Linked DNA regions of Homo sapiens: region 2 is linked to region 1. Evidence: fine-mapped expression QTL. A gene starts in region 1. The other region holds a variant in brackets. All regions are shown on one strand. Distances are between the middles of the regions.

What was found. PIP is the estimated chance that this variant, and not a neighbour inherited with it, causes the effect. A credible set is the group of variants that fine-mapping cannot tell apart.
Region 2: its variant is the best candidate, but not a certain one, in a credible set for the expression of LRRC39 in atrial appendage (GTEx, PIP 0.59).

Annotation. Positions count from the first base shown.
Region 1 is chr1:100,175,443-100,180,836 of GRCh38, forward strand. LRRC39 (leucine rich repeat containing 39) reads right to left here and starts at 2,814. Exons shown (of 10, transcript NM_144620.4): 1 at 2,693-2,814.
Region 2 is chr1:99,877,087-99,882,480 of GRCh38, forward strand. It overlaps AGL (amylo-alpha-1,6-glucosidase and 4-alpha-glucanotransferase), which reads left to right. Exons shown (of 34, transcript NM_000642.3): 12 at 555-742; 13 at 2,837-2,960; 14 at 3,546-3,709; 15 at 3,990-4,091; 16 at 4,206-4,361; 17 at 4,455-4,605. Among named protein-coding and RNA genes, the nearest start is that of AGL, 29 kb to the left of the region's middle. The variant C/T (reference allele first, on the strand shown) is at 3,333.

The sequences.
Region 1 (5,394 bases):
CTCCAGAAGTGCTAGGATCACAAACATGAGCTGCTGTGCCTGGCCAGTTATTTCTTTATAGCAATGCAAGAACAGCCTAACACAGATTGATAAAGTGGACTACATTACAATTAAGAACCTATTGAAAGACATCACTTAGAAAATAAAAGGAATACCATGTACATTAGTGGGGGAAGATATTGGCAATATATATAACCACCAATGGATTACATCTAGAATATATAACGAACTCCTTAAAATCAGCTGAAAAAGGCAACAGAAAATACAATTGAACAGGAAATTTTCAAAAAATAAAATCCAAATGGTAGAACTTTCCCTGTGGAGAAAAAAAAATCCAAATGACCAAAAACAAATGAAGTTGTGCTCCACCTTAATAAAAACATAATAAGATACCAATGAACATCTGTCAGAATGGCTAAAATTCAAAAGGCTGATTATACCAAGTGTTGGTGAGAATTTGAGTTACAGAAATCCTCATGGACTCCTGGTATATTGGTGAAATTGTAAATTAGTATTAACTATTTTGAAATACTTATGTACTAATATTGAAGATAAGCACAGCTTATGATCCAGCAATTCCATTCAAAGGTATGTACCTAGAGGAAGGGTGTGTCTCCACCAGGAAACATGAACAAGACTGTTCCCAGCAATGTTTTACATGATAGTAAAAAAATTAAAAATAAAGTAAAACAATGTTTTAAAAGCAATAGCTGGACATGGTGGCTCACGCCTGTAATCCCAGCAGTTTGGGAGGCTGGTGGATCGCTTGAGGTCAGGAGTTCAAGACCAGCCTGACCAACATGGTGAAACCCCGTCTCTACTAAAAAAACATAAAATTAGCCAGGCGTGGTGGCACATGCCTGTAATCCCAGCTACTTGGGAGGCTGAGGCAGGAGAATCACTTGAACCCGGGAGGCAGAGGTTGCAGTGAGCTGAGATTGCACCATTGCACTACAGACCAGACAACAAGAATGAAACTCTGTCTCAAAAACAAACAAAAAAAAGGAATGGCAGTATTCATCCATTGAATTATAAAAATAGCTAGAATTAAGGGGGAAAAAACTGTGTGACATTGGAGATATGGTGAAAAGATGAAATTTCTTCTCCCAATAAGCAAAAAGAAAGGCAGTCAGAAATTGTGTTGAGGAAGACACTGTACAAGAAAGCCACAGTCCATATATAGAGCCAACAAAATGTGGCATGATTTTTTAGCATTTATTGAAGTGCAGGAAAGGAGAATCTATTTTAACATTCTTCTTTAGTACAATGAATATGACATTGATACTGAGAAGGAAATGTTGGCTCTGCAGAAAACAGAAATTACATAGTAAAGTCTATGTATTGGTCTTAAACTTTTGAAATAAATCAATCTATAAAAAAGTAAGGAAGACTTATTGAGGGTTACAGAACAGAATATAAATGCCATATATCTTGAAAACATAAAAGTGACAGTACTTTTAACAGAATATGGAAGAAGGAAATAAGGAAAAGAAGTAAATGATAAGAACACCGATATCCACATCTTCGAAGTGGGGAATCAACAGATACTGTCTGTACCTTATGGAACAAGAAATAAAGATTAAAGTATTTGCTTAAAGTTATTAAGGTAATCAAGAGAGAAGCTAAAAATAGGGATATAACTCTATGGCAGTGTAAGGGAACTTAATCCCCACCTCTCATAATGAAGCTCCACAGATGTTTAAAGTTGATTAAAAATAGCATGCAATTGTCTTTGAAAAAGAAAAAAAAGAGAGAAATATGGAGATAACCACTGAAAACTAAATTCCAAAATGGTTAAAATGATTACTTCTAGGGAGCAGGACTGGTGATAGAGAGGAATCGGATAGATAATATTGCTTTTCATTATTAACCTCTTCTAAATTATTGATTTTTTAAACTAATATTATGCAGTATATATGTGTGTGAGACAGTCAAAGAAAGAGGAGAACTATATTACAGAAAAAAGTTTAAAATTTCAAGATTGATAAATAATTGGCATAGGCAGGAAATTGTTGAGAGAATCTCTAAGCAAGGCATGCCGAATTTACTCAGGAACAGAATGCGAGATCTCTTTGCTGTGAAGAAACCTTGGGATACATACACTGGTAATCCAACTTCCTGAGCATATTGCAACCAATTTACAATTTATTGTCTCTAATTTAAGAAAGTTTGAAGTTTTTGCTAAATACTCGAATAAAAATATTTTTGAATTCCCAAGTATCTACATGTATACATGTATTTTAGAAGACATGTAAAACAATTCATCCATTTGCTAATTCATTTCCTCATTTGCCATTAAATGTTGCTCATCCATCAGTTTTCCTATAACAACCAACTTCCCCTAGGGAAACACAAGTCAATAATGATATATTTCTTCCTCCAGCACAGGACTGCTCTCTACTCTGATTAGTACCATAATAGAAAAAAAGCACATAATGTGACAAGTGAGGTAAGCATAGAAAAGAATTGCAGAAGAATTGTTTCTTACTTCTGGGGAAATCTATCTTCCAGAGGAGCACAATTATATGAGTGACCATGAACACCCCGCAAAAAAACTTTTAAATTCTATTCCAGTTTGTTTGGACATTCCAACCAATACAGACACAGTATAGGTATCAGCAGCAATCTATTTACATGTGAAGAAGAAAGGAAAAATGTTTTTGAAAAATACTTACCATTGTCAAATACTTACCACACATAACCAAAGTTAGCGACTATCAGTTAAGAGTAGATTGCAGGGGGAAATTTTTTTTTCAGTGTGGCTCCAAATGATTAAAATCCCCAGTCAGCTGTAACCAAGTGAAATGTAATGTCAGCCTAGTTCTAATTTTAGTTCATGGACAAAGCTGAGAATAGAAAGAATCACATGAGGCTTCTTTGCGACGGATCAGCTGATAATGTATGTGAGTGCGTTCTGTGGACTGCAAAATACGCTACAGACATTATAAAACTATCAGGCATAACTATTTCTAAGATCTTGAAAAATAATGCCTATTCAAAGTCCTTCTACTTTTCACAGCTTAATCATTTCACAGAATTTCATGCATCTATTCCATCCAAGCAGAGAAACTTGGAATATGTTGATGTATGCCACAACAAAAATTCTACCCAGTAAACCATGGATCTGCAAATATTTGAACTAAAGACCCAGATGCTTTAGAAAAAGAAAAAATAAAGGTGTGGATAAGCATGAGTAACACAGAAGCCCCAAACTTCTGCTGTACCTGGGCTTCAAATTAAATTACCTCTCACTTTGATCTCTTCAGCTTTCATAGATAGGACTTAATTCCAGGTTCTTAAAAAATAAACTATATCTTTTTTTGAATTTATAATATATGCACATGGAACAGAATTCAAAAGCTCAATCTCCACTCTCTCCATCCCCCACCCCTTCCACCATCCCTGCCTCCAGTAGGGAGGTTCTCTTCAAGTTCTCTTCTCTGAAGGCAACCACTATTGCCAGTTCTTTGTGTACCTTTACAAAGATGGTCTATGAATTTACGAGCTTAAATATGCCTATATCCCTTAAAAGCACACATATGTGAAGGCATGCACACATACAAAAATGGTAGCATACTATATACATTGTTCTATACTGTCTTTTCTTCACTCAGGATATCTTGGAAACTGTTTCATATTAGTATATTTAGAGCAGCGTCATTCTTTTTAATGGCTACATAGCAGTTTAGCGTGTAGGTGGATCATAATTTATGTAGTCATTTGGACATCTCAGCAATATTAATGCTTTAAAAATTTATGCCTGATTATCTCACAGAAATTCTCCAACACTTCTATAATGAATTAAGTTCTAAGAGTTGTGGGACTGCTCAAGATCACAGAAAGAGTAAAGAAGCCATGGCCACAATTGAAACTCTAACTTCCCTGTCCCGAGAGTGTACACCACCCAACACATACAGAGTGCTTGCATGTGTTCATAAGTAAAAATCAAGATCTCACACCTGTAATCCCAGCACTTTGAGAGGCCAAGATGGTAGGATCACTTGAGCCCAGGAGCTGGAGACCAGCCTGAGCAACAGAGTGAGACCCTGTATCTACCAAAAAAAAAAAAAAAAAAAAAAAATTAAAGTAGCCAGGCATGGTGGCCCTGTCTCCATAAAAATAAAAATAAATAAAATAAAATAAAACTAGCCAGGTGTAGTGGTGTGTATATGTAGTCTCAGCTACTTGGGAGACTGAGGTGGGAGGATACCTTGAGCCAGGGAGGTCAAGCTGTGATGGTGCCACTGCACTCCAGCCTGGGCAACAGAGCCTTCCTTGTCTGAAGAAAAAAAAAAAAAAAGAGAGAGAGAGAGAGAGAGATCCAGGGAGTTTTGTTTCAGTTAAAAAGAACAGTATATTGTTACCTTGGAGAAAATTAAGATTTCTTTCTGCCTTTGGCACTACGTACAATTAAATTTTAATTTGACAGTATTTATAGAGAACCCACAAATTTCAAGGCATCTCTCTTCTCCTTCCCTTATCTACCTTTTATTTCCCATCCCCATGGAGTGACTTACACTAAAGAAATGCCCGGGAGGATAGGGAAAGTGAATAGATGCCTGAGCTATTTATGACACAAATTAGCCAGAATTTTGGTGACTTTGGAGGGATGTAGAAAGTGAATGCAAAGAGACAGGCACTATATAATGAATATCTATCTGTCATTTACGACTGTCCAAAATATTTTGAACACCATCCACATTTTTATAATCCCCCACATCATGAATCCTACCTTTCCAAGGTAGAATTTGAGGGGGAAAAGAAATCCCAGCCTCCCCTGCTACTGGAATGGGGTATGTGACTAATTTTATACACTACTAAGGTTCCACTAATTATATACACCAACAAAGGGCTCTGTTGGGTGACTTGTGTCGCTGGTGTCCATTTTTGCTGGCATGGGTAGCAGCAAAGGCAGTATGTTCTGGGGTTTGTTTTGGCAGCAAAAGTTGCCTAGCCTCAGCAGATGTAGCTGGTTCTGGGGTCAGCAGCAGCAACTCCCTTACTAGGCAAGTACTGTAATGTAATTCTGGAATTCTGACAAAGGCTACGACATGGATGATTCTTGAGGACATTATGCTAAGTAAGCCAGTTACAAAAGGACAAATAAAAAATTATGGAGATAGATGGTGGTGATGGTTGCACAATATTATGAATGTGTTTAATACCACTGAACTGTACACTTAAAAATGATCGGCCGGGCGCGGTGGCTCACGCCTGTAATCCCAGCACTTTGGGAGGCCGAGGCGGGCGGATCACGAGGTCAGGAGATCGAGACCATCCCGGCTAAAACGGTGAAACCCCGTCTCTACTAAAAATACAAAAAATTAGCCGGGCGTAGTGGCGGGCGCCTGTAGTCCCAGCTACTTGGGAGGCTGAGGCAGGAGAATGGCGTGA
Region 2 (5,394 bases), 300 kb before region 1:
GGAGCCCATTGATATATTTATTTTTTAACATTTCGAAACTAGGAGTCTATATTAGTGACATTAAAATTTATTCAGAAATCTTAATGCTTTTTTTTAAGAGTATAAATTTGGGTGTAAGTATCTCTGCCCTCTTTTTTCTAGCCATTCTAAACGAAATCAAGCCATTCTGCTGTATGCCATGGATCTAATACAACCTGTTGCCGAAAATAAGTAGGAGGGTGGAGATGGAGTTTTAAATGTTTTTGGTAGAACTATGGTTTTAAAAGGCCTATGATATTAACATTTCTGTTTTCCCTTATGATGCGACTTGGGTTTTTGAAATTGAGGACAAATTTTTAGAAGAGACTGTAAGCTAGAGTTTTTTCAGAATAGCTATGAGAAATAAATAATTATTAATTTTTTAAAACATTATCTCATACCACTTTAGATATAATTTAACCAATATATCATTTATGGCAGAAATGATCAAAGCAATTTAAAAACCAGTGTTTCCTTGAAGTAATTGTTTTCATTTTATTTCTTGAACCATTGAAAGCAATCTCTTTTCTGAACAGGTTCAGAAGTTTACCTAAGGAGAGAACTTATTTGCTGGGGAGACAGTGTTAAATTACGCTATGGGAATAAACCAGAGGACTGTCCTTATCTCTGGGCACACATGAAAAAATACACTGAAATAACTGCAACTTATTTCCAGGGAGTACGTCTTGATAACTGCCACTCAACACCTCTTCACGTAGCTGAGGTACAGAAAAACAATTTATCTACATTAAGAAAAGAAATTCAGTGTTCCTTCCTAGCTTTCCTTAAGTAAACTATGCAGGTAAATGTTTCCTTTTGCTAGTTGGACACAAGCATTGATTTGGTGGTAGTATTTATCACTATTGCATAATTAGCATAATTCTAACAATCTTTTGCAGTTGTTATGGAATACTGGGCTATAAAATATTTAACTAGCTAATTTTAAAATTTTAATTTAGGGAAGTTGATCACGTTTCTGATAATATGGAGTGCAATCATATTGGCTACTGTGAATACATAAAATGTTAATTTTTGTTATTTTTAGGTTGCTTTCAATATATTTTAGAAGTGACTGTGAAGGTGAATAGCTTATTACACATTATAGTGGTGTGTGCCTATAGTCCCAGCTACTCGGGCGGCTGAGGCAGGAGAATCACTTGAACCCAGGAGGTGGAGGTTGCAGTGAGCCGAGATCACACCACTGCACTCCAGCCTGGCGACAGAGTGAGACTCTGTCTAAAAAATAAATTAATTAATTAAATTAAATAAAAAATAAACATTAACATTATAGCATATTGAAGCCAGTCTAGCCTCATCGATTTAATTTTTATTATTTATAAAAATTATAAGTGTAAACATAAACATTGTCTATTTCTCTTTGAGCTCTTTACAATAACTTCTGAACAATGCCAATACTTATAGTATTAACTTCTATCTAATACAATCTTTGTAATTAAACTCATAATTTTCATCCTGCTTATAAGTTTTTTTTGTTATTTTTAGAAACCCTACAGTGGCACTGCTTATAAGATTTTTGATACCTTACTAGTGACCAGTGTCACTTAGGTGTTCTTTGGAAATGTGTGCTTACCTAAAAAATGTCTATTTCTATAATATTAAAGCAGTATTATAATATATATTTCAAGTCCTATGATGAAAAATTGATTTGATTTGGAGGGATTTAGTGAATATTAGTTAAGCTGGTAGAACATTGTTTAGTTCCAAAAAATGACGGCTTTATTTTATTGTGCTTTTAGCAATAGCAAAAAGAAATATGCTTCTAAGATTGTTACATGGCAGAAAAGAATGTTCAAACTTAATTTACTTAATTTTAAATTACAAAATCTAGGATTCTACTTGTTAGCTAATAGAGTTTCAAGTATTTTATTAATCTTTGTGCAAATGTTGTGTTTAACAGTTTGGAACCAATCTGATTTTTTATTATAAACCAGTGTTTATAATAAACAGCTAGATAGATAGCACCAGTGTTAAACGTAAATCACACAAGTGGAAATTGTAAGGTGTAAGAGTTTTTAAGAGTTATTTATCATCATCTGTAGGAGAAACTGGCTTCAGTCTGGTCAGACAAATCTAATCTTTCCAACAGCTAAGTAATTCACCAGCAGGGAATTTATGAATAATTATTTAGTCAACCACCTGGAAATTAAGTCTGATTAAAGTTTTAAAAATAAGCAAGCAGGCCCAGGCACGGTGGCTCACGCCTGTAATCCCAACACTTTTAGGCTCAGGCAGGCAGATCAGCTGAGGTTGGGAGTTTGCAACCAGCCTGACCAACATGGAGAAACCCCATCTCTACTAAAAATACAAAATTAGCTGGGTGTGGTGGTGCGTGCCTGTAATCCCAGCTACTCGGGAGGCTGAGGCTGGAGAATTTCTTGAACCTGGGAGGCGGAGGTTGTGGTGAGCTCACATCATGTCATTGCACTCCAGCCTGGGCAACAAGAGCGAAACTTGGTCTCAATAAATAAATAAATAAATAAATAAGCAAACAAAAAACAGGGAGAAAACCTAACAGAATTGTAGTGTTATGATTTACATTTAGTAATATGAAACTAACATTTTTCTTCTTCTTTTCCTCTCTCATGTCTCAATATCTTTGCAAAATCTAATCTTCCTTTTTAACCGTTTTCTTCTCTTGATAAATTCTCTTGTTTCTATGTGTTTTGGTATGTTTGATATCTTGCTGCATATTTTTCTATGTCAAATCATGCCTCCTTTTGTCTCTTTCCTTCCTCCTATCTTGCTTTTCTCTTTCTGTTACATTTATTTGTTACATTTGTCACTGTGCTTTTTACAGTACATGTTGGATGCTGCTAGGAATTTGCAACCCAATTTATATGTAGTAGCTGAACTGTTCACAGGAAGTGAAGATCTGGACAATGTCTTTGTTACTAGACTGGGCATTAGTTCCTTAATAAGAGGTAGGCTTGTTGGAGTGTATTTCCCTCTAAAACTTTAGCTTTTGTTTAAGTAGATTAAAGGATTTAATAGCTTCATATGCAATGCTTAATAATTTTTTAACACAGTTAATGTTCTTCTAAATACTTTGTATGACATATTCTAATATAACTCAGTCTATTTTTATCAGTATAAATTTCTACTTTGGGGTAAGATACCTCATTTCAAATTGAAAGACCAGTAGGATGAACTGAAGACTCACTAACAAAACCATTTTTTGTTGTTGAAAATATGCAAACCTGTTTTTCATCTTCTACTGGGAGATATGATGTAATGTTTAGATGTTTTATAATCAATTTTGTATAGCTTACATCCCAGTAAACAACATATGTTCC[C/T]TTTTCCTTACATGAGCCATTTCTCCAGTTAAGTTATGGGGAAAACTTTTTTGTCACTTAAACTAGTAGACATTTGTTTAAATCCTTAAAGCAGTTTTATTTTTTATAATATTGATGTGGTCTTTATTTTGAAAATCATTTATGAGAAGAAATCTAACCTCTTCCTGGACATAAATAATGAAGATTGTTAAAATATTCTGTAATGCTCTGCAGAGGCAATGAGTGCATATAATAGTCATGAAGAGGGCAGATTAGTTTACCGATATGGAGGAGAACCTGTTGGATCCTTTGTTCAGCCCTGTTTGAGGCCTTTAATGCCAGCTATTGCACATGCCCTGTTTATGGATATTACGCATGATAATGAGTGTCCTATTGTGGTAAGCACCTAATCTTTTTCATGTACTTATTTTGCTAAATGCTTTGATATTTAACTCTCTGACACTTGGTCACAATCATACCCATATACTTCAAAATAGTGTCTTAGATTTATAACTGATTTATAATACATAGTTTTCAGAATGTTTTACTTGTTTAAAAGCAAATTAATTTACCTTATGAATTTATTTATGTAATTATCCTTTTACTTCATTATGCTATAGAATAGCACTTTGCATTTGAAAGAAAGCAAACTTTTGCTTTGTTGTTGTTGTCTTCTAGCATAGATCAGCGTATGATGCTCTTCCAAGTACTACAATTGTTTCTATGGCATGTTGTGCTAGTGGAAGTACAAGAGGCTATGATGAATTAGTGCCTCATCAGGTTTGTTTATATGTTGTTTCTTAAAACCTACATGGCCAACAACTTTGGGCATTTTTATTAAAAAAAATTCATTGTAATTAAGATGTATCCATGCTAAATTTTACCTTTGTCCAGATTTCAGTGGTTTCTGAAGAACGGTTTTACACTAAGTGGAATCCTGAAGCATTGCCTTCAAACACAGGTGAAGTTAATTTCCAAAGCGGCATTATTGCAGCCAGGTGTGCTATCAGTAAACTTCATCAGGAGCTTGGAGCCAAGGGTTTTATTCAGGCAAGAAATAATTAAATTTGTTTCTTCAGGTTCAATTTCAGAGTAAGTCTTTCCAGTTTGAGAGCTAATCTAGTTGTTCTTTCTGCTTCTCAGGTGTATGTGGATCAAGTTGATGAAGACATAGTGGCAGTAACAAGACACTCACCTAGCATCCATCAGTCTGTTGTGGCTGTATCTAGAACTGCTTTCAGGAATCCCAAGACTTCATTTTACAGCAAGGAAGTGCCTCAAATGTGCATCCCTGGTAATGCAATCTAAAAATTGTTACTGTATTTGTATTATATTATTATATTAAATTATACTGTAATGTTATGGTTATATATCATGTATATATCATATATATTATAACACAGTGCTACTGTGGACGTACTTGAGAAAAAGAATTTAAACTTTTTGGTAACTTGGCCAGGTATGATGGCTCACACCAGTAATCCCAACACCTCAGGAGGCTGAGGCAGGCAGATCACTTGAGCTCAGGAGTTCAAGACCAGTCTCAGCATTATGGTAACACCCTGTCTCTATCAAAAAAAAAGTACAAAAAATTAGATGGGCATGGTGGCACATGCCTGTAGTCTTGGCTACTCCTGAAGCTGAGGTGGGAGGATCGCTTGAGCCCAGCAGGCAGTGGTTACACTGAGTCCAGATCCCACCACTGCACTCTACTGGGTGATAGAGTGAGACCCTATCTCAAAAAAAAAAAAAAAAAAAGAAAGAAATTTTTGGCAACTTATATTTTTACTGCATGGAACAAAACCTAGACAGAAATACTTTCAAATGTTAACATTTTTTGAGTTGTGAAATATTTTTGTTTATATTTTATTTCCTAATTTGTGTAAAATGAACATTTATTTCTCTTCTAGCAGAACAATATGTATATTTGTGTTAGTGTATATGTATATATGTGTATAAATGTCTTTGTGTGTATATATGCACAAACATACATACAAACATGCGAACTAAAATGGAAAATAATATAACCTTATGTTTAAGGCTTTTCATAATCCATTCTCATCCACCATCCTAGCCCTATGTC